Linked DNA regions of Homo sapiens: region 1 is linked to region 2. The links come from fine-mapping of genetic effects on gene expression. A gene starts in region 2. The other region holds a variant in brackets. All regions are shown on one strand. Distances are from middle to middle. Region 1 overlaps KLHL33 (kelch like family member 33). Region 2 holds the start of OSGEP (O-sialoglycoprotein endopeptidase).

What was found. PIP is the estimated chance that this variant, and not a neighbour inherited with it, causes the effect. A credible set is the group of variants that fine-mapping cannot tell apart.
Region 1: its variant is the best candidate, but not a certain one, in a credible set for the expression of OSGEP in whole blood (INTERVAL, PIP 0.72).

The regions. Positions count from the first base shown.
Region 1 is chr14:20,424,163-20,427,074 of GRCh38, reverse strand. KLHL33 (kelch like family member 33) reads left to right here. Exons shown (of 5, transcript NM_001365790.2): 5 at 1-1,223. Among named protein-coding and RNA genes, the nearest start is that of KLHL33, 11 kb to the left of the region's middle. The variant C/T (reference allele first, on the strand shown) is at 1,313.
Region 2 is chr14:20,453,372-20,456,283 of GRCh38, reverse strand. It overlaps OSGEP (O-sialoglycoprotein endopeptidase), which reads left to right and starts at 1,472. Exons shown (of 11, transcript NM_017807.4): 1 at 1,472-1,715. The coding sequence starts at 1,601. It overlaps APEX1 (apurinic/apyrimidinic endodeoxyribonuclease 1), which reads right to left and starts at 1,058. Exons shown (of 5, transcript NM_001641.4): 1 at 890-1,058; 2 at 581-706; 3 at 183-370. The coding sequence starts at 638. RefSeq lists enhancers at 795-1,014, 1,435-1,524, cis regulatory regions at 1,076-1,081, 1,097-1,102, 1,115-1,147, 1,158-1,163, 1,160-1,201 and 2 more, promoters at 949-1,283, 948-1,485, 1,115-1,559 and a silencer at 2,822-2,912.

The DNA of each region.
Region 1 (2,912 bases), 29 kb after region 2:
GTATATCTCCTAATGCTATCCTTCCCCCCTCCCCCCACCCCACAACATTCTCCAGAGTGTGATGTTCCCCTTCCTGTGTCCACGTGTTCTCATTGTTCAATTCCCACCTATGAGTGAGAACATGCGGTGTTTGGTTTTTTTGTCCTTGCGATAGTTTACTGAGAATGATGATTTCCAATCTCATCCATGTCCCTACAAAGGACATGAACTCATCATTTTTTATGGCTGCATAGTATTCCATGGTGTATATGTGCCACATTTTCTTAATCCGGTCTATCATTGTTGGACATTTGGGTTGGTTCCAAGTCTTTGCTATTGTGAATAGTGATGCAATAAACATATGTGTGCATGTGTCTTTATAGCGGCATGATTTATATTCCTTTGGGCATATACCCAGTAATGGGATGGCTGGGTCAAATGGTATTTCTAGTTCTAGGTCCCTGAGGAATCGCCACACTGACTTCCACAATGGTTGAACTAGTTTACAGTCCCACCAACAGTGTAAAAGTGTTCCTATTTCTCCACATCCTCTCCAGCACCTGTTGTCAATTTTCTTTTTCTTTTTTTTTTTTTTTTTTTTGAGACAGAGTTTTACTCTGTTGCCCAGGCTGGAGTGCAATGGCGTGATCTCAGCTCACCGCAAACTCTTCCTCCTGAGTTCAAGTGATTCTCCTGCCTCAGCCTCCCTGAGTTGCTGGGATTACAGCTATTACATCTGGCTAATTTTGTATTTTTAGTAGAGACGGGGTTTCTCCATGTTGGTCAGGCTGGTCTTGAACTCCCGACCTCAGGTGATCCACCCACCTCGACCTCCGAAAGTGCTGGGATTACAGGCGTGAGCCACAATGCCCGGCCTGTGTAGGTCAGTTTTCTATTACCATTGTTTATTAAGATTTTCATGTTTCTAAGGGTGATGATGGAGTCTCCCTTGCACCCTTCTTCATTCTGGCCCCAGAAGTACTTGGCATGTATTTTATTTATTTATTTTTAGATTTCGTTATTTTAGTAAGATCTTTTTCTGTATCTCTATTTAAGATAGACTAGGAATGTAATTGAAAATGAGAAGGGGTAAGTAGGATGTATAAGAGAAAAGAGAAGGAAGAATAAAGAACGGGAAGAAGGAAATTGAAGGAGATGACAAGCTCTCTGGATGAACTTCTATGAACATTTTTTGTGATTTGTACCTAAAGGCAGACTTAAATAAAGGTTTCATAGTGACTGAATCTTTCTTATCTGAGTTTCTCTACTATAAAAAGCATTCAAAATAAAATTCCCTGTATTCTGCCTTCTAGGTCTACCACATGATTGAAAT[C/T]ATCTCCCTCCACTGTTACTGTGACCTGCTTCTTACCAAATCTAACAATCTGTGGCCATCTTCATTCTCTTTCATCTTTCTACAGGAACTGATTGGCGTGAAAACTGGCTCTTACCCTAAAAATTTCTCTTCTTCTGGCTTTAGAGATAGCACACTCTCCTGGATGGACCTTCTCTTATTTCTCCAATCCAAAATCCAGTAAGCCAGATCAAAGTGTCCAGGGGGGTGTGGCTTCATCCTTGGAGCTGATAGCCAAGGATCCACAGGTATGTGGATGAGGGTGGTTCATTGCAGAAAGTTCTGACTTTCATTATTTGTCTTTAAAACTGAGGGAAGAGTGAGGAGAGAGGAGACCTCTGACTTGAAGGAGGACCCTAGTCAATAGTCCATTCATCAGTGAGAAGGGACTGAATATAGGCAAGGTAACAGTCTGGGTCTTCAGCCAGGCAGACTAAGAATAGGGTAATATCAGGGTAACATTTCAACCCCAGAAGGGAAGTGGAGTGAGAAGTAGGAATTGGGATAGAAACTATGCATACAGATTGGGCAGCCGTGGTGGTGACCTGGCAAGACTAGTTTGATGACTGTAGAGGCCTGGGATTCTTACCTTTGGTGAATCAGATGATAAGCCAAGGTGTTCTAGATGCTCTCTAATAGCTCCCCCAACAGTCTTCCCTCCACCCCCTTTGCTGGTGAGGGTGAAATTTCTGATATCTCTCTTATCTTTCCAAGGTTGACTCAGGTACTGGGTAGGACTGGACATGCAGGTTAATGTTTAGTACAAGTAAGTGTGTGGGACTCTAGGTATCACTTGTCTCCTGTGCCTAGTCCTGGCTGGGTTGCTCACGTTCTTCCTTTCCTTTGTTTTATGCTCCCTGTCAGGAAGCTCACCTCTCCTCTGTCTCCAACCTTGATGGTTCGCCTGGGTTCTAGTCTGATTTTTTTCAGTGATTCTCACCTCCATTTAGATGTGCCAGCATCATTAGTTCAGATTCCTCATGCTTTATTGGCACTATCATTTCTCCTATTTCCTGGGCCTGAAGCTTTGGAATCCTCTTGAGCTTATTTTCCTTTATCTTTTCTTCTTTACTTGACTCATCATGTAATACTGGACTACCCAAAGAAAAACTGACTTAGTGTCTTCTCCCAATCTTTTCTGTGTTAAATATAATATATACGGAAAATTTTTAGCCAGGTGTGGTGACACATACCTGTAATCCCAGCTACATGGGAGGCTGAGGCACGAGAATTGTTTGAACCCGGGAGACGGAGGTTGCAGTGAGCTGAGATTGCACCACTGCACTCCAGCCTGGGTGACAGAGTGAGACTCTGTCTCAAATTAATAATAATAATATATGGAAAATTGATAGCAAGGAAGGTTTAAAAAAATAGAAGAGCAAATTTATATGAAAATTTCACTAGCTGTGAAACCAAGAATTATTACTTACCCAGACAGACACTCTGGGTTGTAGAAGCAACAATGTTCAATCAAAAGAATGAAAAAGTGCCAGGCACCGTGCTACATGCCCATAGTTCCAGCTCCTCAGAAGGCTGAGGTGGGAGGATTGCTTTAGCTCAGGAGTTCGAGTCCAGCCTGGAT
Region 2 (2,912 bases):
GGCAATGGAAGTGAAGGAACAGACATTTAGGAAATACAACTGGCAAGACTGGGGAAGCCCCACAGAAAACTACGGGCAGGAGAAAAATAAAACAGCCTGAAGGCTAAACGGAGAAAAGGGGTGACTAAACCCTAAGACCATTCAATACTAAAAAATGTCTCTTTCCCTCAAATTCCACTCACATCTAATCCTTTCTTCTTAATCCAGGCTCGAAGCCCATCCACATTCCAAGAGCAGATCTTGAGTGTGGCAGGTTTGCCACTGGGTGAGGTTTTCTGATCTGGGGGGTCCTCATACAGGGCTGGGCCCTCTCCTGCTGCCTCTTTGTCATTTTTCTTTGCGGCCGTCTTACTCTTCTTGGCCTCTGGCTCTATAAAATGAGTAATATATACTGACAAAAAGCTGGTGGTTTCCAACTGCGATCCGGCGTTAACTATAGACCCAACGAAAGCCTACGGTTCCTGCGACTTCTTCACAAACCCCTGCAAAAATGAGTCGGCCCGTACTTACCGTACATCAAGGGAATGACAAACACCCCCGCCGCAGCTTCTAGGAAGAAGGGCTGATTTCATTCCCTTACCTGTCCTGAGCTCATCCCCGTCTTCCGCCACCGCTCCCTTTTTCCCACGCTTCGGCATTCCCGTTACGAACGCCCTTGGGCAGCTGTACCGCGTCACCCACCGAAGCAATATTTTTACCGCGTTGCCTACAGACGCAAAGAAATCATGAAACCAGCTAAGGCTGGGGAGAAGACTCCTCCCAAGAGCGTCCCCGCACCAGGTCCCGCCTTTCAAACCACGTTATCTCTAAATCCTTTCCCCGCCTCCGTGCATCATAGGCCCTTCAGCCCCTCACCCACGAAACTAGATCATTTCATAGTGCCTTGTACCCTACTCGCGAGATCTGCCCTCCAGCCAATTGAGGATCTTAATTAAGGGTCCTGACTCAAGCTTGCCGTTCAGACTGCCAGCGAAGCCCCTCTTATGAGCAAAAGAGCAACCCCGTATCTGCACCGGCCCGATGGCAGCCTAGCTCCTCCTAACCCGAGCACAAAGAAGGGTGCACGCTGAGCCCCCACGTGGGTAGCGGACCTGGTCACGTGATCAGAGGCGCGCTTGTCGTGGCCGAAGAATGCGCGTGATTGGTCTGTCTGACACCACGTGACGGAGACGCTTAGCCTCGCCTCCCTCCTCTAATTCTCTAGGACACTTAGGTCCCCAACCCTCCCTCGGGCTGTTTATCGTTGTGCCAGATGCACAGCACATTGTGTGACACTGACTTAAGATTCTAACTATGTGCAAGAGGGAAAAAAACAGTGGAGAAGGCTGGGCTGGACCACGGGAAAGAGATAGGAAAACGGATACGAATGTAAGGCACAGAGTTGGCTCGGCGTCCCTGGCAGTTAGGAAGACAGGTCCCTGGAGGGGCCTTGGCGGGTCTCCGCTCGCGGGAGTTCCGCGGTGTCTTTCCCAGTGCTATCTGCAGGCTGGCCAGCTTCCTCTGCGCTCCGGAAAGCTGCGGCCCAGCGCGGACTAGTGAGGACCTCCACAGCTCCTGACATTGCCAGGAGTCCTGTCGGCGTTTTCTCCCAGCCTCCGCCATGCCGGCGGTGCTGGGTTTTGAAGGCAGCGCCAATAAGATTGGCGTGGGCGTGGTGCGGGATGGCAAGGTGCTGGCGAACCCGCGGCGGACTTACGTCACGCCTCCTGGCACAGGTTGGTGAGTAGGGGACTTAAGAGTTTTCCGCGCACTTCCCCGCACAGAATCAGCCTTCCATCTTCCTAAATACTAGTGAGGTGCAGCTTTCGATCCGAGTCTCATTGAAATTATGTGACATTATTAACGTCACAAGGCTGATGACTAGAAGAGTTACAGGCACTTGGACGTGGATCTGATGAGTTCATTTACCTTTTACTGAGCGCATTTTATGTGCTAAGTATTCAGAAATAGATGTTATACTGCTGTGGAGTCAGACATATAAATAGATGTTTATACTACAGCATGATAAACAGTATAATAGAGATGGACTCGAAATATTCTGTTTAAAAAACGCTTAGCAGGAGTATAGATTCCAGTTGCCCTGAATATACACTCCCTTTTTAAAAAAAAATTATTTTTTGAAATATTCTAGGATGAGTAGAGAGATGAGAGTGGAAAGACTCCCGGCTTACATGTCAGACAGAACTGGCTGGCTTTGCTATATTCATATTAAATATTTTTGTTTTGGACATTTGGTCTTTATTTTTTATTTTATTTTATTTTTTTGAGACAGAGTCTTGCTCTGTCGCCCAGGCTGGAATGCAGTGGCACGATCTCGGCTCACTGCAATCTCTGCCTTCCAGGTTCAAGCGATTCTTCTACCCCAGCCTCCCAAGTAGCTAGGACTATAGGTGTGCGCCACCACATCCAGCTAAATTTTGTATTTTTAGTAGAGTCGGGGTTTCCACCAGGCCAAGCTGGTCTCGAACTCCTGACCTCAGATGATCCGCCCACCCCAGCCTCCCAAAGTGTGGAAATTACAGGCATGAGCCACCGCTCGGGCCTGGTCTTTGTTTTTAAAATGGGAATAATACCTGTATCATTAGGTCTTGAAGATTAGATGAAAGTACCAAACACGGCTGGGCGTGGTGGCTCACGCCTGTAATCCCAGCACTTTGGGAGGCCAAGGCAGGCAGATCACCTGAGGTCGGGGTTCGAGACCAGCCTGACCAACATGGAGAAACCATGTTTCCACTAAAAAATACAAAAAATTAACTGGGCGTGGTGGCGCATGCCTGTAAACCCAGCTACTTGGGAGGCTGAGGCAGGAGAATTGCGTGAACCCGGGAGACAGAGGTTGCAGTGAGCCGAGATGGTGCCATTGCACTCCAGCCTGGGCATCAAGAGTGAAACTCTGTCTCAAAAAAAAAAAA